7 separate regions of the Homo sapiens genome follow, and all the other regions are reported to be linked to region 5. Evidence: microRNA targets listed by miRTarBase, many of them from high-throughput screens and not tested one by one. Region 5 holds a microRNA gene; each other region holds the end of a gene's coding sequence.
The links. The annotated mature microRNA hsa-miR-7160-5p reads UGCUGAGGUCCGGGCUGUGCC and lies in region 5 at 862-882, shown strand. An mRNA with a match to its seed (bases 2 to 7 or 8) in the 3' UTR can be bound and repressed. Matches are read on the target gene's strand: a 7mer-m8 pairs with bases 2 to 8, a 7mer-A1 pairs with bases 2 to 7 and ends in A, and an 8mer does both.

Region 1 (3,081 bases), not on the chromosome of region 5:
GCCCTTGTGTCCTGTGACCAGCCCTGTGTGGGGCTGGAGTCCAGGGTGACCATCAGGCCCTGGGTGGGCGATGGGGTGCCTGGGACCTGGCTCAGCCCGACTGCCCTCCTCCCACAGCCTGGCAGCAGGTGCAACAGCAGCTGGATGGTGGCCCAGCCGGTGAGGGCGGGCCAAGGCCTGTGCAGTACGTGGAGAGGACCCCCAATCCCCGGCTGCAGAGTGAGCCCCCCAACCCTGTCCCCCCAGGAGAGACCCCCCAGCCCCTCTGATCCTGACCCAGGCCCTGCCAGGTTCCCACCCCAGGGGATGAGGGAGGGGACTCTTGTGCAGAAACCCCTTCTTCCCAGCGCCTGCCGCACTCGGAGTCCGGGTGAGCGGCTTGTGGTTAGCTCCAGGGGAGACTTGCCGGCTGGCCTGGGAGGCAGCATCACTGCCCAGCCTTCTCTGCCCACAGACTTTGTGCCCATTGACCTAGACGAGTGGTGGGCGCAGCAGTTCCTGGCGAGAATCACCAGCTGTTCCTAGTGGCTGCTGGGAGGGGGCGCTGCTACACGGCCGACCTGTCGCCAGGAGAGAAGCATGGCGCCCTGCCCACCCACTGCGCCTGGCTGGGTGCCGGCCACACCTGAAGTGCCAGCATTTGGACTTTTGCACCTTTTTTTCCCTTGGCCCGGCTGTCCCAACCAAGCTGCCATGGCCAAGGGCCGAACCCGTCTGACCTCAGCCCTGCTCACTGTGCCCAGGGACCAGCGACCAGCCCCTGGGGCTGGCAGGGAGGAGCTCCAGGCTAATAAAGTGGAGAAACTGTCTTTTTGGAGTGTCTTTGACTTGGGAGGGTGTAGGGGGGGTTCTCATGTCCAGTTCCAGTCCACAGCCTGGGACGCCAGGCCCAGCACAAACTCCCCTTGTAGCCCTGTTCCTTCAAGCCGTTAGCTTCTCACCCAGCTGCCCTGCGACAGGTAGGAGGGACGTTAGCCAGCCCACCTTGCTTGGAAGTCTGGGGACCCCACTTGGTTCCTCTTTCCTCTCCCGTTGGCGTTGACTGGGACCGAAGCCGAGACTCAAGGCCTAAAGACATTAAATGGCCCCGGAGTGCAGTCCACCACCCCCCACTACCGGCACTGGGGCTGTGTCTCAGAACGCCAGGTCCCATTCTGAATCCGCCGGGCCCGGCCGCAGGACACTGGGCGAAGGAGTACGTGGGGAACCTGATAGGACGAACGTGGGAACCAGCCCCTCCGCGGGCGCCCGCACTACCTTCCCTGATGGACGGGGATGACCCAGCCCACCTGAGTCAGGACCCAGGGTACCCAGGTGTGGAGCAGGGGCCTCTGGACGGCGAGAGAGCGGCAGGGTGAGGCCCGGCCGTCCGTGGCATGGCCAGGCCTCAGCGCGACCTCGCCTCGCTGCTTGCATGCGGCGGGAGCCCCGGCCGGCCGAGGCGCTGACAGGTGGGCGCGGCGGAGGATCCGCAACCGGCGCGGGCTTCGAAGCCGGTCGGGCTAACAGGGGGCTGCCTTGGGAGGCCCGCGGGGCAAAGGGCAGCGGGATTCGCGGCTGGAGCAACCCTGGAGGCCGCTGACGTGAGCGGGGTACTCCCACCGGGGAGGTCACGTGGCCAGGGCGCCGCCATGACGGCGGAAGTAATGGCGGAAGTGGCACCGTTGCCAGGCAGCCGTTGCCTGGCGTCGCGGGGCGTACTCTGCGCTGGGCGCGCGGAGGCCTAGGCGGGAAGCTCGAGCGGCGGCGCCATGGCCCGAGGTAGCGCGCGGCTGGCGGGGGTCCCGAGGATCCCGGGTTCCGGGGTTCCGGGGTCCAGGGTCGGCGGCCGGAGCGCTCAGGGCCCCCGCCTAGGCCCTGAGGCCAGAGTCCCCGCTCAGGCAGGGTCCCGTCTGCCGGGCGCCCACCCTCGGGCTCCCGGAGCTTGGCTTCCCTCGGGCGCCCGGCCTCGTCCCGCCAGCCTAGCTGGCGTTGGCGTCGCCGGGGAAGGCGCGGAGAGCCCCGGCTCCTGCCTGGTCCCCGAGGCCCGGCCCAGCCCCGCAGTGGCCCCGGCTCGCGTGGCCGAGTCCCCTGACGCCCGGCGCCCGCTCCCCGCAGCGTGGCAGCACCCGTTCCTCAACGTCTTCAGACACTTCCGGGTGGACGAGTGGAAGCGCTCCGCCAAGCAGGGGGACGTGGCCGTGGTCACGGTAGGCGGCCGGGGGCTCGCCCGGAGCCCACACCCCTGCCCTGCCCCCAGGAGAGCTGCCCCGCCCCCGAGGGCCCCCTCGCCCCCGCTGCACTTCTTCTGGGTGCTGTCGGTGATGCGGGCTCCCGCTTCTCCAGGACAAGACCCTGAAGGGCGCCGTGTATCGCATTCGGGGCTCAGTCTCTGCCGCCAACTACATCCAGCTCCCTAAGAGCAGCACCCAGTCTCTGGGGCTGACGGGACGATACCTGTATGTGCTCTTTCGGCCCCTGCCCAGCAAGCACTTCGTCATCCACCTCGATGTGTCCTCCAAGGTACGGAGCCCGCGGCTGGGGGCTGCGTGGGAGCCCCGGCACCCCTGCGGCCCCTGTCTCCTCACGGCCCTGCTCCGTCCCCACAGGACAACCAAGTCATCCGTGTGTCTTTCTCCAACCTCTTCAAGGAGTTTAAGTCTACGGCCACGTGGCTCCAGTTTCCCTTGGTCCTGGAGGCCAGGACACCTCAGAGAGGTGACACCAAGATGGGGTGTGGATGATCCAGGACAGGTGGCTGGAGGGAGTTGGTGCAGGCCCAGTGAGGCTCCTCTGCGGCCTGGAGGACAACCTGGCGGGGGCACAAGCTCACAGTTCTGGGAGTCGCGGGCTGTCAGGAGGGTGGGCGCTGACCCTGAGTGCCCATCCTGCAGATCTGGTGGGTTTGGCCCCCTCCGGAGCCCGCTGGACCTGCCTGCAGCTCGATCTGCAGGACGTTCTCCTGGTCTACCTGAACCGGTGCTACGGCCATCTCAAGAGCATCAGGCTGTGCGCCAGCCTGCTGGTCAGGAACCTGTACACCAGTGACCTGTGCTTTGAGCCTGGTGAGGGCCGCACCTGCACTCCCCACTCCATATCTCA
Region 2 (3,081 bases), not on the chromosome of region 5:
TAATAAAGCACAAAATAACTATTTAGGGGTGACATAGTGATTCTCAAGCCTTTCATCCTTTAATAATTGAAATTTAGCTGAAAGTGTAGATGTCAGCAGAGTATGTGAGGAACAGTAGATTATTTCTCACAATGGACATGACTCCATTTAAGCTTTTCATTCATAGTTTGCTAATGAATATGCACTACCATGGCCGTAAGTGTCACTTAAAACCATCTTTTTTTCTATTGTAGGTTGATGCTCACCTTAAGAGTGAGCAAACAGAAGCAAGCACCAGGCAAAATTCCCAAGTACTGCTATCAGAAACTGGAATTTATGATAATGACCCTGACCTTTGTTTCAGGATGCAGGAAGGGTCTGAAGTTTATTCTAATCCATGCCTGGAAGAAAACAAACCAGGCATTGTTTATGCTTCCCTGAACCATTCTGTCATTGGACCGAACTCAAGACTGGCAAGAAATGTAAAAGAAGCACCAACAGAATATGCATCCATATGTGTGAGGAGTTAAGTCTGTTTCTGACTCCAACAGGGACCATTGAATGATCAGCATGTTGACATCATTGTCTGGGCTCAACAGGATGTCAAATAATATTTCTCAATTTGAGAATTTTTACTTTAGAAATGTTCATGTTAGTGCTTGGGTCTTAAGGGTCCATAGGATAAATGATTAAAATTTCTCTCAGAAACTTATTTGGGAGCTTTTTATATTATAGCCTTGAATAACAAAATCTCTCCAAAACTGGTTGACATCATGAGTAGCAGAATAGTAGAACGTTTAAACTTAGCTACATTTTACCCAATATACAAACTCGATCTTGCCTTTGAAGCTATTGGAAAGACTTGTAGGGAAAAGAGGTTTGTGTTACCTGCATCAGTTCACTACACACTCTTGAAAACAAAATGTCCCAATTTGACTAACCAACCATAAATACAGTAATGATTGTATATTTCAAGTCAGTCTTCCAAAATAAGAAATTTTTGCTGTGTCAGTCTAAGAATGGTGTTTCTTAAATGCAAAGGAGAAATCATTTTAGGCTTGATGTAAGAAAATGAAAATAATAAATGGTGCAATAAAAATATAGAATATACCAATTGGATATAGGGTAGATGTTCCACATACCTGGCAAACAAATGCTTATATCTACTCTGTTAGATTGATAAGCAAATATAGGTATTAATGGAGCAGTCAACGTATAGCACATTTATGAGGAAAGTAGAGACTCACTGGGTCACATAGACTAATGGATAGGAATGTGACATAATGCTGCTGAATTAATATACTTATGGGCATCTGAATAGTTTAAAAGTTAGTCAGAATAGGTATCACTGGGCAAGTGAAGATAGCTTAAACTGCTTCATGCTTGACTTGATAGCAAGTTAAAGTGCAATTAATGGAATGGAGGAAAACCCAGAATATTTAATTGGTCTGTAGGGGTCAATTTGCTTTCATTCACCACATCTGCATCTTGCTGTTCTTCTTACTAAGGAATCAGGGCAAATCATCTGTAGTGACATATTTTAGTTTGCTAATCATTTATTTTAAAATACTGAGGTTGCAGCCACTTAAGAGTATAGCAAAAGATGGATTCAGATTTTTGGACTTTCCAAAGTACTTGAGTTAAACTATTTCAAAAATAGCCTATAATTTTATTCAACAGTTTGAGGCTATTCGAATTCTCAGGTGCTGCTACTGAATAATGTAATAGTCTTCATACAAAGTGGATAGCAAAGGTTAAAATCCATTTCAACAAATATGTGAGCTGAGCTGCTGCACAAAGGAATGTGATGTGTGTGTGTGTGTGTGTGTGTGTGTGTGTTAGGTGGGGTGGGTGACAACAGAAATGGTGCACGAGAAACTGATCAAATTGACATTATATTTTCAGTTTGCTTATGAAGCTCAAAATACTAGAGTAAATGGGTCATTAAAGAAAATAATATGTGAAATTATGGAGTTTAGAATACAAGTGGGGTATATATACAAAAAGACAAAACTGAGGTTTTGTGGTGGAGAGATTTTCTTAAGTAACACTGGCATTAAGTTTTAGCTCCTTAGATTTGGGGGTGCAAATATTCTTTTGAGTCACTGTTATTTTGCCAATTACACCTAGAATTTCAAGCAACCAATTCGAGATAGGCTGTTTTAGCCAGGCTGCATTTGTGGACAACTTATGTAAGAAAGACATGTTAGAATAGCTGCTTGTGGTATTCTTAAAAATAGAAACAGGAAATATGGGGAGGATACATTTAGCTGTCCTCTTATCAGATGAACACACGAAATTGAACAGTTCCTTCATGATTCTCTCAAACTTAAAAGCAAAATATTTCTGTCTTATTTAAAATATCCTTAGTATGTCTTATAGTAAAGATAATGCTGATAATGATTTCATCTCTAAGATGTATTAATATATTTGTACTGTTTGCCAAAATCACAAATCATTTATGTTTTTATTCCTTTTCAAAATGGTGTCAGAGACATACATGCATTTTCCCAAATGACTCTACTTCACTATTATTTACATGGCTTATTTCATTAGTTTATAGAGGGTTTGAGAAAAAGAATATGTAGATAATTTAATGGTTTTTCACAAATTTTAAGCTTGTGATTGTGCTCAATGAGAAGGTAAAGTTATTAAAACTTATTTGAAATCAATTTGGCATCTGATTTTGTACCCCAAAATGTGTGGACATGAATAGAATACTGATTCTTAAACCCCCTGACACATAAAAGCGACCCGAATAACTTGCTAAACTGCAGACTATTAACTTGCAGCACTAAGAAATTCTGATTCAGGAGGTCTAGAAAATGGCTCTTTAATCATCATCTTTAAAAGACATGCCAACCAATTTTAATATGTTTCCCAGTGTCCACAATTTGAGAAAACTAGTAGAGGCTAGGTTTGGTATATGTGGTTTATTTGATCAGTTTTGTGCACCAACCAAAACTATCTAGTCCCCAGAATGAATTCTCTGGCGCGATCATATCTATTTTGCTAAATATATAAACTTTTTTCAGAGCACTTTTAGGTTCAGCAAAGCTAAGCGGTGAGCATTGAGAGTTTCTATACCGTCTTCCCCCACAC
Region 3 (3,081 bases), not on the chromosome of region 5:
CCATTTTGTTCAAGGGCCACCCATTCACAGAACAGTGTGCCTGGGGCTCCTCCAGCTGGCTTCACACAATTAGCTATTTACCAAAGCAGAATTCACCTGTGTGATTCTTGAATCATTAGGCTAAAGGACAGGGCCATCCAAATCTTTCCTGCTTGAACAGAAATTACACTTTCTCAGCACAAAACAGGCATTTCAGCCCTAGTCTTCAAGTAGTAATGGGAAAATCAGAGAATGTTCTTGGGATATGCAGTGGGTGCATCTGGCACAAGGGCCACGGAAGAGAAATACTTTAGGGTTCGGGTCACTAGAGTTCAGGGTTCAAAGGAATTAATGGAACGTGAACTGGGGCTGATTCTGCCATTCTTCTGACTGTAACTACAAAGTTTATACATTTCTCTCCCTGGAAAACTTTCTTTCCTATCAAAAGGGAAAGGAAAACCAACCACTATTTCTCCAAAAGCTATTCTCTTGAAGAACCAGAATCTTGCATTATCTGGATAGTTTCTAGAGAAACTATGCAGATTTTCACCCTTAGGGACTCTTTAAGCCTTAGGGTTTAAAAACCACTAGGCTGCTTCCCATTTTGCAGGGCAACTGGGACTACGGGACCCTAATTAACTGAAATCCTCACTGTACCAGATGTGGAGGGCAGCTGGTGGTAGCGGATGGCCAGATGGCAGTAAATCTCCCTCACCAAGGCTTACACCAAGGCTGTTGTTCACCGGCAGTAGAGCAGCTTAATTTCAGTTCCTTTTTATTTATCCTGCTTAGAAACGGCAAAAGAACGTCAGATGAGGAATATGGAGGAGGAGAAACAAGAAGTGGGGAGAAGGGAGATAATTTTTCTTTTCTTTTTTTTTTTTGAAACACAGTCTTACTCTGTCGCCCAGGCTGGAGTGCAGTGGTGCGATCTCAGCTCACTGCAAGCTCCGCCTCCCGGGTTCACGCCATTCTCCTGCCTCAGCCTCCTGAGTAACTGGGATTACAGGCACCCGCTACCACGCCCGGCTAATTTTTTGTATTTTTAGTAGAGATGAGGTTTCACTGTGTTAGCCAGGATGGTCTCGATCTCCTGACCTCGTGATCCACCCACCTCGGCCTCCCAAAGTGCTGAGATTATAGGTGTGTGCCACCGCTCCCAGCCAGGAGGGAGATAATTTTTCACAACAAGATAATGTCCCTTAGATTATCGAGTGCTGTCTACATTTCAGTGCAGATTCTTGGAGTTATTTCAAAGTTTCTTCTGATTTGATCTAGAAGAACAAGATCTAGAATCTGGGGCAAGATTATCCAAACCTGAAATCAAGGCCTCAGGAATACCTTATACCAAGTCTTGGAATGTGGGTTTTCGTATAAGCAGCTCTCTTCTTTACAACAGCTTTGCTGTTTTTGAGGTCAGAACAGGAGCCCTCTTTCTCAATGACGATTAAAATAAAACTTCAGGGCAAAGTTTTTGAATCTTAGCAACACATGGAAACATATGTCCTGTTGCCAAAAAAATTTTAATTGCCTAATCCAAACCAGAATATTTAGATCAACCTGTATACTATATATTATCTCTGATATACTATATCTCTAGTCCTCAGCATTATTCTTCATAAAACCAAATACCCACTTATTTGCTGAGTGGCCAGATCTAAGAGGAAGCTTTTCTGCCTTTACAGGGATGGCCTTTTGAATAATTGAGCAGACGAAGCATTGGAATATGAAATATTTGTAAATCACTGGTCAGCTCTAGTCAACCTCTTGGTGCTTTTGTTTCCTCTGGTCCCAGATGTGTCTCCTGGCTCTGGAAAGGGAGAGGCCAGTAGTAGGATCAGAAAAGGGAGCAACCAACCAGAAAACACCTAAGTTATGAGGTTTGTGCTTTTCCTGACTTAGAGAAAGTCCATATCTCAGGAGATAAACAGTTCTGGCTGCAGCTCTCTGGAGTAATCCCCTGAAATGGTGCCAGAGGGAGCATGTAGGGTAGCCAAGATTCTGACTCCTTGAACCATGGTCTAGCAAAGCCCTCAGATCCTGCATGAGAGCGCTTCCTATTTGTAAAATACCCTTGGGATCTCTCCAGTGAGGCTTGGGGGCCAGATCAGCCCCATTCCTAGCTGAGACTTGCAGAGCTCCTCTGAGAGATTGGAACTTCGCATTCCTTGAGATGGACATTCACATTCTCTACCTGCTCAGCCCTCAGCGAGCCAGCCCCACTGCCTCTGCCGCCCTTCTCACACACACAAGCCTGCTGCCGCAGTTGCCAGAGCATTCGGTCAAAGCAGGGCGCCACAACCACAGAGCAAATGAGGGAAGTGGGGCCGAGACACAAACATCCTGTCCTCATGACATCAAATGGCTCCAGCTTGAGAATCGGGGTCACTGCCCAGTGACATACACAAACGTCTCATCCCTCTAGCCACTGCCAGTAAGAGGGCATTTTCTCCTGAGTCCATGGATTGAAAAAGTGCTATCCTTTGGCTTGTGATGTCAGTGACAGGTGACAGTGACTGGAACGCGCCGCTGCTGACCGGATGAGTAGGGATATGTTGAGCAGAGGCCAGGCAGGAGTTCTGCTGAGGATGAAGTGAGTGCAGGCTCGCAGGACGTTCCTTCTCTTTCAAGGCACCAATTTAAGAGAGAGGGACTGAATGAGGAGCACAGAGCTGGAGCTCCCTCTGTTCAGTCCGCCCCATCTTTCCAGGACTCCCCCTTGCCCAGCTCTGTTTTTCTTTGCAGGACTTGGGGGTTCTCAGGCCAGGTCTTTCACCTTGTGTATGATCGCTTCCAGTTAAAGATCTCCTCCAGGTTGGAAGAGGAAGAGACTTCCCGCCTCTGCAAGGCTCCCCCACGACGACGGCCCCCAAGGAAGGAAGCTCTGTGCCTGCTCAGCCCTTTAATCCTCTCCTCCGTTCGGAAGAACTCAGTCAAGGCCCGGAAGGACTCCAAGATGACCTCATGGCTCCAGGCTGGCAAGGGCTCCTGGCGCAGGAAGCCACAGTGGCCTCCGTGGCGACTGAGCAGGAGGAAGAAGTAGGGGTTGCTGTGGAAGAGTTCAGTTGTCAGAGTGTGGTCTGGGGGTCCACACACGGGGTC
Region 4 (3,081 bases), not on the chromosome of region 5:
GCTTTTCTAGACAACAGGGCATCAGATTTAAAATCCCAGAGGGAAAACAAACTAACCTGACAGGTCAAAGAAAGTATTCAAAGCTCCCATCTGCCCAGAACTAGGAGGTATGTAAACTCTTTTCAGTGACTGTTAAGGATAGTGTACCTTAGTCCTTTGAGCTTTACCATGAGTCCCTACAGAAGATGTGAAGGTCATTTCTAAAGAATTTAAGAAATATACTTACTGATCCATTAAAGGTTAGGAAAAGCTAGAAATAAGTCCTTTCTTTCAGGAGTAGAGAAGAGTCTTATTAAAAACCACCGGCTTGACTTTCATTAGCTTTCTTGTGTTATACAATTTCTGCTTTTTGTTACTAAACAAAAGACTAAAGCCTAGTTAGGATGAAAAGTGAACTAAACAATAACCGTGCTAATAATAAAAAATGTAACTAACTTTGAGGATTTATTGTATGACAGGCAGGGTTCTAAGTATTTTCATTTAACTTAACCCTAAAAAAAAAAAACCCTCTATGAAGTTGATACTATTTATTGTCCCCACTTAACAAATCAGGATACAGAGGCACACAGAGATAAGGCAACTTGCCCAAGGACACAAGTTAATAAAGAGGTAGAGCCAGTTTTGAACCCAAGCAGCTGAACGCCAGAAATTGCCTCCAGAGAAGGCAGCTGAGTGATGCTACTTACCATTTTTGGTTATTGTGAAAGAGACTTTTTTTGTTCTCTATATTCAATGATTAGTCACCTGGGACATGTGATGATTCAACCAAATTAATAAGCTCAGGTCTGAAACTTACATGCCAAGTAAGTTAATCTCCCACTGGAGTCAGGGAGGGTTGTTAAGGAAAAGAGATTCATTTTAAGGGATGAATCTTTTCTACCTGTCAAGCAATTTTGAACACAGATGAGCTCAGATGCTGAATTCCTCTCCCAAGTGAGGGTCTCACAGGCCTAAGAACTGCTAGTGATGATTCTCCAGCCAAGAGGCCTTGCAGAATTCAGGAACATTAAGGTGATTCTAGTACTTCTCATAAACATGAGTTAGAAAACCTAAGATATTGGCCAGGCATGGTGGCTCATACCTGTAATCCCAGCACTTTGGGAGGCGGAGGCAGGAGGATCACCTGAGGTTGGGAGTTCAAGACCAGCCTGGCCAACATGGAGAAACCCCATCTCTACTAAAAATACAGAATTAGCCGGGGTGATGGCACATGCCTGTAATCCCAGCTACTGAGGAGGCTGAGGTAGGAGCATCGCTTGAACCCTGGAGGTAGAGGTTGTGGTGAGCCAAGATCGTGCCGTTGCACTGCAGTCTGGGCAACAAGAGAGAAACTCTGTCTCAAAAAAAAGAAAAAAATAGAAAAAGAAAGAAAACCTAGGATATCCTCAGGCATCTTTTGACCCCTAAGTAAGGGTCAAATAAATCCTCTAAAGGCTGCCCCAAACCTTTAGGAGGGAGATTATCACATTCTTCATCCACTTAGTAAGCATATGCAATTACTAGCTGTGTGACTTAGACATGCTACAAGACCTCTAGGCCTAGGTTGGCTCATGAGTAAAACAGGGGCATCTTATCTATCTGGCCTGCCAGGAGGCAAGAGGTAGATCAGATGATCTTTTGAGAACACTTCAAGCTCTAAACTAAAAATGAAGGCAAAAGGGAAGACTGGGGAAGGAGGCACTTTTCAACTATTTGCTCATCAAAAGCCAGAGTCCTACCTGCTTTGTTAATTCTTGCAGTAAATACTCCTTCAGGTGGTAAAGTCAAGCAGTTCACCTGGAGAGGGCTGCTTTGCTCCTCACAGAGCTTCAACCAGGCCAACTACTAAAGAGTTAATTCACATAGTATTTAATAATAAAGAGGAACAAACAAAATAAGAAAAATTAGTTGTTTCAGTATTACCAGAGGAGATTTTTTTGAACTACACAAGGAGAATGGTATCTTCAATCTATTCTTGACTACAAGTCTCATTAATGAAGAACTATGGAAAAGAATAAGACATGCATTCATTTTATGGCAAACTACATATTGCTATCTACCTTTAGTTCAGAACATTTACATGCAGTATTTTTAATATTAAAATTAAAATGTATGATAAATGCATGTTTACAGGACTAAATTAGCTATTGTTTGCAGTAAAGCCTTTGTAAATGGAATTTCACGTTGAAATCTTAGTCTTCTGTCCCCAACTCCTTCTTTCCCTAGCTCCTCTCGTTTTCTTTCTAACACTGAAATGTGGGGGAGAAAAATGAAAAGTGCACATCAGAAGAGAGTCACTTGCTGCTTTGGTTTTACTTTCCCATTTCTTTTTACTTTCTGTTTTTGGCTTTTAAAACAAGCCTCTTCTCCACCCACTCCCACCCTCTTTGCAGAGAGCAGACTTCAAACTTCACTTCTGTTTCTAGGTCCTAAAGAGAAACAAGAGGGGGGCGGGGAACAGAAAAGAGATCAATTGAGAGTTATTCCAAAATGCAAATTAACAACAGGTTTTCTCATTTCAAAACTCCCACATTCTGCCAATCTGAAAATATCTTTTCTCCACCTCTTCTGAATGACTTAGGTCCCCAGACAGCGAAGGAATTCAAGCCACAAAGGAGGTATTATGCTGCTTACAGTTCTTAATCTGCCTCCCCGAAGCGCTGCACCAGCCTCTCAAAAGGTTCCTTCTGTAGGTTAATTGCAGGTTGGAGCTCCCAGAATAGCATTTTCTTTTAAGGATGATCGCTCATCCACCATCCCGGAACATTTCTCGAGCTACTCATTAGAGTTTAATTTCCTCGAGCCAAGTCCCTGGAGACGGTGAAACCCTCCTCCCCGCGGCGTGGACGCGGGATGCCCCTGTTCGTGCCTGGAGAGCCCGGGATTCAGCAGGGCCCCAGCGTTCCCCAGGCTGTCCCTCTCTACTGCTGCGAAAAGTGAGCGCGGTCACGAAGTGCTCCTCAGTCCTCGTGGTCATGCGACCCTTGGCCCAGGAGGTCTGCAACACTTCTTGTGTTACCTGATAATCCTCCACCCGCACAAGCACGTATTTGGGTGGGTCTGCTGCGTCCCGCGGCGGGGCTACACGCCTGCCAGAAATTC
Region 5 (3,081 bases):
CCAATTTCCTAAGGATTTTGAAATAGAAGAGTATCTCAGGTGATATTTCTCAGGTGTTAGAAATGCCAGATTATTGTCACTGTTTCATCCGCACATTTTTGCCAACGTGCCGTTATGCACCATAGCAGGACCAAGAGAAGATGACCTGTAATTCAGGATCTAATGACGAAAAATTGTAGACTCAGTGTTTTATCAAGGATTCTATGTTTTGAAGCTTTTTAATTCATACATAATTTTATATTTCTTGTCACCAACCCGCCAGAGTAAGAAATATTCTAGTACTTTGAACATGAGAATTAAACAGTGGTCAAATCAAGGGGATAGAATTGGAGCTTGGAGGAGCTGTAAACAGGCTTTGCAGTGACCCCAGCCTTTAAATGACAGGCGTGTGCCTTTTCTCTCCCTGCCCCAAGATGCTGACCCGCTGGTCACAGGGGCCCCCGGTGCACCCATGGACTTGCAGTGCCACGACGCCAACCGGGACTACGTCATCGTGACCTGGAAGCCGCCCAACACCACCACTGAGAGCCCCGTCATGGGCTATTTTGTGGACCGGTGAGCGTCTTGCATTCTCCCGGGGATGGGAACGTTCCGCATGGAATCTTACCATGGACAATATATTGAGAAATTTTTCTCAATGCAGGTTGACGTTCCCATTTTTTGATTGGCTCTAGGTACATGGCTAATTGGTTGTATAAGTTCCTATTTAGGTAATTGGTAAATACGGCCAAGTAGGCTGAGCCCAGCATAACCACACTGGGTTTCTTTTTGTTGAAAGTGGAGGCTCGTTTGCCTGTTGCACACCCAGTAACCAATCCCACCAACGTCTTCAGGCTCACTCTGAGCCCCGCGCTGTGGTTCTGCTGAGGTCCGGGCTGTGCCCCGTACCGGACAGGGCCCTGGCTTTAGCAGAATTAAAGCTTGGAACTGTCCTTCCCTCCTGAGAGACAAAGTGCTGCGAAGAATGCCAGCTCATTTCTAACAAAGTTCTTTCCTTTTCTCTACTGAGGAATAAGGTGTTCTTCTTGTTTCCAAGTGAAAAATCTTGAGCTTCGAAATACTGGAGTTTGTGTTTGAGTTGATAACTTACATTTAGGTCATCGTTGGAGCCAGTGGAGTTTGAATTCTTTGACTTCCCGTACTGGGGACAGCGCTTGGAGCCTGGGAAGTGTACTGCACAGAGCCAGTGGGTTTACTGGATATGTAATTTATGCCCTAAATACAAATTCCAGTTCTTGGAGTAAATTATAGTTGAAGAAAATGAATTTAGAAATTAGACAGAGAGTAAAAGAGGATGGTTCTGGCTGGGCACGGTGGCTCACGCCTGTAATCCCAGCACTTTGGGAGGCCAACGCGGGCGGATTACAAGTTCAGGAGATCAAGAGCATGCTGGCCAGCATGGTGAAACCCTGTCTCTACTAAAAATACAAAAATTAGCTGGGTGTGCTGGCATGTGCTTATAATCCCAGCTTCTTGGGAGGCTGAGGCAGGAGCATCTCTTGAACCAGGGAGGCGGTGGTTGCAGTGAGCCAAGATTGCGCCACTGGACTCCAGCCTGGCAACACAGTGAGACTCCACCATCAAAAAAAACAAAACAAAACAAAAAACAAAAAAACAAAACAAAAAAACCACAAAGGATGGTTCCTGGTAGAAATGCAAAATTTTATATGTATATTAAACAGAAAAATAAGGTGATTATCTTAGGAAAAAATGAGGGAATTGGCTTTTGTTTGTTTGTTTGTTTATGCTGATTAAATTCTCTTTTCTCTTCCAACAAAACTACTTGTTTGGCTGAGACCTGTGCCATCAAACTAATATTTTGATATGCTAGAGACAGTTCTGCAGGGAGTGCTGTTCCGGGCTTACCTTGAATTAAGCAACTACAGCAAGAAAAACAAACCCTCAAAACGATCTTCTTTTCTCCTGGGACAGCTGATAAGTTTTCCCGCCATGTTGACAAAAACCATTTCCTGCACTGTCTCAGCTAACAATCCACGCTCCTCCCCTCATTACAAAAAGCGCAAACATGAAATTCAAAGCAACGGAACACTTTGGGAATGAGGGTGCATTTGGAAGTGGGGGGTGCAGCTCCTCCTCTGCCCTTCCTTTGGGCTTACGACTTGCCAGCTGTTGCCTGAAGTTGCAGGTTTTCCCATCAGACTTTTGGTTTTGACCTGTTGTTCTCTTCGGCTAAAACAGCCCATGACATGTGGATCAGACAGCTTTCATTAAAAGTGCTGGATACTTAGGAGGAGAGCTGGTTCTTTCCCAGATGAAGGCACCACTCTGGGGTTGAAGTGCTCCCTCCCAACACTGATTTTCTGAACTAGCTCTTTTCTCCTGGGAATTTCATGTGAAGGTTTTTTTCTTACATTTTTCAACCTGTGAAAAACAGAGGTTAATCTTTCCTATATTTCCAGGTTTCTGGTCAGGAATTAATATTTTCAAAAGACTTCTAAATTCCACATGAGAGGCATTCTAGAAAGAAATGTCCTAACATTATTCTAGGAGACTGTAAGCCAGCTTTCCCAGGGACCTGGGCCCTTGGTCTCACAGAGTGGGACGGGAGCTGGAGGCAGAGGGGGCTGAGCCTGTTTCCCCAGCCTGGGCCTCAGACGGGCCAAGCCGCAGCTTAGGGGTGCCGTGACTATGTCACGTAAGTCGGAACAAGAACTGTTCAGGATGCGTCTAAAATAATTTTTTGAGGAGATTTTTGCCTAAATGTGTTTGATGACAGAAATTGATCTTCAGCTATAAATTATTAAGATTCATGGGCATATATTACATATATAATAGATATTACATATAATATATATATTGCATTTTCTAAATAGCTCTGTCTTCTAATGTTTATCTATACAAGTCAATATCTTAGCAGCAAAGATTTTACTGGCGTGAGATATTGTCCTGTTATAATCAGTGTGTGCATATATGCATATACCTATGTATATTTAGTAGGTTGCCACATTTGCTATTCTCTGTTGTTTTTCTTTTTTTAACTTGAAGATGTGAAGTAGGAACGAATAATTGGGTGCAGTGCAATGATGCACCGGTGAAAATCTGCAAATACCCGGTCACAGG
Region 6 (3,081 bases), not on the chromosome of region 5:
AATTATGTTTACTTAAGAAATTAAATTAAAACAAAACAAAAAGAAGACAGCACTGCCACCTTGCATTTCAAACATATCACTGATGGCCCGTGGTGATGCACGGAGGTTTCCTGCAGTGCACACACACTGGGACGGCCACTAACACTTTCTAATGATTTGTTTCATGCCTTCACACCACCTCTGTCCTGCCATCTCTGTTTTAGATTGTGGCCAAGAAATACCGCAACTATGATATCCCGGCTGAGATGACAGGCCTGTGGCGGTACCTCAAGAACGCCTATGCCCGTGATGAGTTCACCAACACCTGTGCAGCTGACAGTGAGATCGAGTTGGCCTACGCTGATGTCGCCAAACGCCTCAGCCGATCCTGAGCACAGCCATTTTGCCCCATCCCCGCTGCAGAAGGACTCAACCACTCCCCTAAGACTCCAGCTTCATAGACTCCTCTGTATCACTGCCTTGAGGCGCACTTTTTATAATCAAGCCTCATCTTGCTGGTATCATGGGAACTCCAGCCTGCTATCTTTCATGAAGGTCAGCACCATCCCTGGCCTCCTCACATAGGAATCTAGCAGAAATGATAGACACAGTCCACCTTTCGGCCGGCCAGCCTGATCTGGGCTCAGCATGTTTGGGGTCAGTCAGTGTTGGAGAGCCCACATATGGGATTGCCACTAGCTTCTTCTGCCAATATCAAAATACCTTCTCAGATGCTTTAGAAACATGCAACACCAACTCCTTTTCTACCCTCCTCTCCGTCCATACCTACAAGGCCAAGGACAAACGCCATCTTCATCCTTCTTAGAAAGAGATCTATTACCCCATTAGGGGAGACAGAGAGAGTGAATGGAGGAGTACCGAGCTGGCTATGGACTTGGGTGTCTGGCAAACACAGCTTCAGTCTCACTACTTCTGACACTCTGGTTATTGGGCACTAAGGGCCAGACTGGAAAGTCACTTGAGACACATTCTCAGTTTGTTGCAGTGCCAGGAATGCTGCGCTGCTGCTGCTGCGCACCTGGCCCATGCTGTCCCTGGCTTCCATGCCGTCCAGGCCCTGCCAGAAAAGGAAATTGGCATGCAATTCTAAACTGCAGTGACTGGGATGGGAGGGGAGGGGAGCAGTGTTGATGCCAAAATACCCACGGGGTCTACCAGCCATGGGGTTTGCTTGCTTAGGAGTAGTTGTTTCAGAGGTGATTACAGGCCTGGGTTTGACTGTGCTTACCAATGAGTGGTTTTTGAGCTATGAGAAAGTGGATGGGAGTGGGAGGAGGAGAGATGGGTGAAGACAAAAGAGTTCTTTATGAGCCTCGATGTTCCCTGGTAAACTTTTAAAAAGGCCTTCTCTCATGATCTAAGTCTTGGACTGGTGGCATCATGTAACTGCTAACCTTACAGTAAAAACCCAAGAATGGGTCAAAAATGTCTTCCCAGTTTCTCCAAGCTGCTTCTGGAATGCAGGTCTGTCGGCTGGGTGCTCTCCAGCAGCTGCTCCTGCCTGATTCAACTGTAGCCTGTAATGGGTAAAAGCCACATTTAGGAGGTGGTCTGATCATAGAACACCTTAGGAAGAAAGTCCATGAGACTTTCTGACTAGGAAACCATGTGGTTTGAACTTGAAGAAAAATGTAGACCCATCTGGGTTAATTTTCCTACAATCTGACTCAACTGCCAGGTGAAAAAAAAAAGGAAAAATTTTTAAGCTAATATTTCACTCTTTTGTCATTCTCCTTAAGTTTCATCTCCTAAAAAGCTTACCCAGCCTGAGCTTGGGGACCTGTGCAGAGGAAACTAAGAAAAATGCACTCATCAACTCCTTCTCCCAGTGAACGCCCGGTGAGAAAATCCATTTGCCACAGGCCCTTACCTTCAACAATCCCCCTTCTATAGTGTTCGCTGGTAAAGGGTGAGGCTCCCAAGTGCTGGAAAGCCCCTGGACTTGGCTCATTTCTCAGCAAGGGCAGGATAGCACGGGTCCTTTCCATAGAAATATCAACAAATTCTAACCCAAGCAATCCCTGGACCTACCTGCCTCCAGGGATCTCTGAAGAAAAAAAGTAACCCATTGATCAAATCAGAGGAGAGGAAGCAGGAGGTCTCCTAGAGCCCATTGAGGAAGAGGAACTTTCTCAGTAGGACACTTTATAAGCCTGAGAAAGCTTTGAAAAGGCGGAATGAGTTGATTCATTTCCACCTCAAAAGGAACCTTTCCAGGTCCCCCTGGAAATTGTGCCCTGGAGATGTTTAACAAGGAGAACTGGTGAGGAAAGAGTCCTTTTTTACTGTAGGGAAAAGCCCCAAACTGGCCTCCTGGGGGATGAGGGCTGAAATGATCCCGAAGGCCTTTTAATTAGTGTGAAATCCTGCTGTACTCAGAAATCCTTCCCCGAATTTACAGCACAGGCAGGATGACCTAAGAGGCAGTTTACTTCCCTGAGACCCACAGTTGGGCTGTTCTGGAAACACATCTGTGAATCATAGCCAATTGCCACAGAGAAAACAGAACCAAGCCTCCGGTGAGGCCACTCCACCCCAGAGAAGTCTGCAGAATTCCAAGGACTCGGATTGGATGTTCAGAATTCAGCAACTGGAAAGTCCTTAAAAACAAACAGGCCAAACCAAATCAATATTGCTGTTTCTAGATGTCCCTTCTGTGGTTGAGCTAGTTTTACAGAGATAAATATATTAAGACAAGGAGGTGGGGGTGTTATATGATCAATGATAGCCATTTGAAAGAGAGGGAGGAGTACAGAAGGAAGGCACTTCTGGGTACTTAATTCAGAAATTTCTTTATATTTCAGCACTGGATTATCATATAATGCAAGTGACTATGGACTAAGAGTTAGTTATGGTGTCTTATGACTAGATTTATTATGGTATATTAAAGTAACAATAATATTAATATTACCTTCCTTTTTTTTTTTGTTTCAAAAGAGATCTTTCTCCAGATGCTTCAGCCTGTCTGGCCTTCTTATCATATGTGCAGCACATCATGTCTCAGCAACAGTGTGGTGAGGTCCTTAGGTGTCCCAAGAACAACTCAGGGAGCACGGGAGGGTCTGCAGTTGGGACCCCACA
Region 7 (3,081 bases), not on the chromosome of region 5:
CAAATGTGTGATGCTTTCAAATAGATTTATATTCTTCCTTTAAGGGTAAGTATTACAGAGAAACAGCATTCTGCAGTGTTTCTTAATGTTAGATGCCCTTTCGCTTTGTAGAGAGAGTATTGGTGGTGATGTATTTGTATCTATGTATACAAAATTAAGGGATTATTATGCATTAATAACAGACTGATAAGGAAATAGAATGTTATATTTACATATTGCTACAGGTCATAAAGCATGTTAAGTATGGCAAATTTGATTGTAATGATGTACTTCTTTTTTTAAAAACTACAGATGGGTGACGAACAATGACAGTTTTGCACCAGAGGACCCATGCTTCTTTTGTGATGTTTGCTTCCGAATGCTGCACTATGATTCAGAAGGCAACAAACTGGGGGAATTCCTTGCTTATCCTTATGTTGATCCTGGAACCTTTAATTAAGAATAGCTACACTCACAAAAATACCCCCTCATGAAATAACTGTTCTCTTGGATGGTTACCTTATTTCTAAGAAACGCCACTGAGGAACAGGATCCACTTTGAACAGTCCGCTAAAGCTATCAAAAAAAAGTCCAAATGACAGATTTTCTTATAATGATAGTATTTAAATGTTTATAACATAGTTTAATTTTATATTTATTCCAGATAGTATTTAATTTAGTGCTTTTTACCCATTTTGAGTTGAGTTGTAGTACTTTATATATTCTGACTTTAAATCCTTTGTCAGACACACATATTCTTTCTCCCAATCCATGCCTTCCCTATTCATTCTCTGTCCAGAGTTTTTTGCTAAAGATAGAATTATTAATGATACATCAAGTAGTGGAAGTGTTTTGAAAATTCTTTGAAGAATGTGAGAGCTACACCTTCTACCATGAGGCTTCCAAGGTAAAGATCCTTCAAATAACTGTAATGGAAACTAGGGAGAATGAATTATTTACAAATAAGACAAAATTAATAGCTTTGGGATTATTTATTTTTTGAGACAAAATCTCGCTCTTGTTGCCCAGGCTGGAATACAGTGGCGCAATCTCAGCTCACTGCAGCCTCCGCCTCCCGGATTCAAGTGATTCTCCTGCCACAGCCTCCTGAGTAGCTGGGATTGCAGGCACCTGGCACCATGCCTGGCTAATTTTTGTATTTTTAGTAGAGACGGGGTTTCACCATGTTGGCCAGGCTGGTCTCAAACTCCTAACCTCAGGCGATCCACCCGCCTAAGCCTCCCAAAATTTTGGGATCACAGGCGTGAGCCACCGCGCCCGGCTGCTTTGGGGGAATTTAATCTTAGTGTGCTGTTTAGTAATGTTAGGTTTTGTTTTGGAGGAAACTAGGCATACAAGACATGTTAATAAGACTATGTGAATAATGAATTTAAAAAGATCTTGAGTATATACTCATAACTCCAGAAATAACATTAACTTGAAGCTTTATTTCTTGACAAAAGCTTTATGAATGTTATGAGTTTAAAATATGTCAATTTAATACTATGATTTAAAAAACAATAGCAGATTTCGTATGACTGTGGGGACATGGAAAAATCAAGATCCTATTGATTGCTAGCTCTGGCTCACTTATTCTCCGGTAATGATACTATTGGATATATACCAAAATTATATAAGCAAAAAGAAAAAAAATAAGTTTTCCTGGCCCAGGTCTTCCATTCTTCTGGTCCCCTTACTATAGTAATTCTAGTTACTCTCATCTTATTCTGAGGAAAAAAAAAAAAACCAAAACTTTTTAAACTTATTTTTTGACATAGGGTCTTACTGTGTCACCCAGGCTGGAGTACAGTGGCGTGATCTTGGCTCACTGGAGCCCTGACCTCCCTAGGCTCAGGTGATCCTCCCACCTCAGCCTACCGAGTAGCTGAGACATGGTGGCACAGGCCACCATGGCGGGCTAATTTTTTTATTTCTTGTAGATACAGGGTTTCACTATGTTGCGCAGAATAGTCTCGAACTCCTGACCTCAAGTGATCCATCCGCCTTGGCCTCCCAGAGTGCTGCGATTACAGGCATGAACCACAGCGCCCAGCAAAATAAACTTTCTTTATTTTCAGGTCTAGACCATCAGATAGATTTATTCAAATATTTTCTGGGAACCTTTATGGGTAGAACATTTAATACTGTTTAGAAGACTTTTAGGAATACTATAGATTTCAAATGCATCATTTAAAATAAATAAATTCCACTTTCTCTCTCCTAGGTTGTATTTAAATTTGACTGAATATCTGGATGGCTAAGAACAGACATTTATCTTACACATGGAAAACTGACGAAACCTATAAGCCTATGTGTTTGACAGTGAAGTATGTTTTATGGACTTAAATGCCACAAACAGTTAAGTCCATTGGCTTGGAGATGACAAGCACGAGTTTCTGGTATGTCTAGTGTTCTCATTCACTGATTCAGTCAGTACACAGATAATCAGTATAGAGAACTTAAGAGGCTGGCTTATGTTATACCTAAATTTTTACTTTCTTGTATACAACAATGCTAAAATTGAGCAGATTGATAACTGCCAGCAAACCATAGATTTAAGATAAATGAATGATTTACCCAACCCTAAAATTCCATGGGTAAAAATTTTGATTCCTTTATTTTCAATACTGCGTTCCTTATAGGTCTTACATGCATATGCAAGGATATTTTATCTTATTCATTCATTTCATACTCTCAAAACACCAAACTTCAAAAAGTTAATTATTGTCATAATGCATTATTCCATGTGTGGTGTCAATACATTTTAGCGGACAAAGAAGAAACATGCCAGTTAAAACATTTCTGCTACTGGGATTCTTTATTAATTATTTGAGAATGTTATTTTGCTAGTTCTTAAGGTTAAGTTTTTCATCAAAGACTCAGGTACCTATTATTGTTCCCTGGTGAAACTGAGGAGAAAAGTTAATCAACCAGGTTACTCCCACAGTTTGCCCGTGTGTTATGTATCAGTTATACAGGTATCCCACCAAGTTCAAGTCAAAAGAAATTCCTAACTTTGTATATTTCTGGAGCTATAAAACCCCTGATTTAAGACAGCTTTTCTCTTTTTTCGAGGCAGCTTTTCTTTATGCTTATTTCAAT

Region 1: miRTarBase lists MCRIP2 as a target of hsa-miR-7160-5p. Seed matches in the 3' UTR shown: 7mer-m8 at 719-725.
Region 2: miRTarBase lists BTLA as a target of hsa-miR-7160-5p. The part of its 3' UTR that is shown has no 7-base or 8-base seed match.
Region 3: miRTarBase lists ABHD15 as a target of hsa-miR-7160-5p. Seed matches in the 3' UTR shown: 8mer at 2,560-2,567, 7mer-A1 at 1,621-1,627 and 7mer-A1 at 1,109-1,115.
Region 4: miRTarBase lists C6orf141 as a target of hsa-miR-7160-5p. The part of its 3' UTR that is shown has no 7-base or 8-base seed match.
Region 6: miRTarBase lists CLIC5 as a target of hsa-miR-7160-5p. Seed matches in the 3' UTR shown: 7mer-A1 at 622-628, 7mer-A1 at 1,954-1,960 and 7mer-A1 at 3,000-3,006.
Region 7: the mRNA of SNAPC3 is a reported target of hsa-miR-7160-5p. Seed matches in the 3' UTR shown: 7mer-m8 at 1,847-1,853.

What each region holds. Positions count from the first base shown.
Region 1 is chr16:647,666-650,746 of GRCh38, forward strand. MCRIP2 (MAPK regulated corepressor interacting protein 2) reads left to right here. Exons shown (of 5, transcript NM_138418.4): 4 at 118-219; 5 at 455-809. The coding sequence ends at 525. WDR90 (WD repeat domain 90) reads left to right here and starts at 1,700. Exons shown (of 41, transcript NM_145294.5): 1 at 1,700-1,761; 2 at 2,098-2,189; 3 at 2,326-2,502; 4 at 2,589-2,697; 5 at 2,874-3,044. The coding sequence starts at 1,752. LOC105371038 (a long non-coding RNA gene) reads right to left here and starts at 1,648. Exons shown (of 2, transcript NR_135177.1): 1 at 1,290-1,648; 2 at 793-950. RefSeq lists enhancers at 265-314, 1,737-2,559 and silencers at 1,735-1,834, 1,945-2,074.
Region 2 is chr3:112,463,536-112,466,616 of GRCh38, reverse strand. It overlaps BTLA (B and T lymphocyte associated), which reads left to right. Exons shown (of 5, transcript NM_181780.4): 5 at 234-2,651. The coding sequence ends at 509. Among named protein-coding and RNA genes, the nearest start is that of BTLA, 34 kb to the left of the region's middle. RefSeq lists enhancers at 10-525, 2,963-3,081.
Region 3 is chr17:29,559,810-29,562,890 of GRCh38, forward strand. It overlaps ABHD15 (abhydrolase domain containing 15), which reads right to left. Exons shown (of 2, transcript NM_198147.3): 2 at 738-3,081. The coding sequence ends at 2,752. Among named protein-coding and RNA genes, the nearest start is that of ABHD15, 5.7 kb to the right of the region's middle.
Region 4 is chr6:49,551,208-49,554,288 of GRCh38, reverse strand. C6orf141 (chromosome 6 open reading frame 141) reads right to left here. Exons shown (of 1, transcript NM_001145652.2): 1 at 2,194-3,081. The coding sequence ends at 2,762. Among named protein-coding and RNA genes, the nearest start is that of C6orf141, 2.1 kb to the right of the region's middle. RefSeq lists enhancers at 2,301-2,820, 2,837-2,906.
Region 5 is chr8:2,075,728-2,078,808 of GRCh38, forward strand. It overlaps MIR7160 (microRNA 7160), which reads left to right and starts at 862; the gene lies at 862-913. MYOM2 (myomesin 2) reads left to right here. Exons shown (of 37, transcript NM_003970.4): 11 at 414-555; 12 at 3,007-3,081.
Region 6 is chr6:45,900,378-45,903,458 of GRCh38, reverse strand. It overlaps CLIC5 (chloride intracellular channel 5), which reads left to right. Exons shown (of 6, transcript NM_016929.5): 6 at 204-3,081. The coding sequence ends at 371. Among named protein-coding and RNA genes, the nearest start is that of CLIC5, 110 kb to the left of the region's middle. RefSeq lists enhancers at 694-1,538, 1,242-2,441, 1,843-2,531.
Region 7 is chr9:15,459,428-15,462,508 of GRCh38, forward strand. SNAPC3 (small nuclear RNA activating complex polypeptide 3) reads left to right here. Exons shown (of 9, transcript NM_001039697.2): 9 at 292-2,199. The coding sequence ends at 439. Among named protein-coding and RNA genes, the nearest start is that of SNAPC3, 38 kb to the left of the region's middle.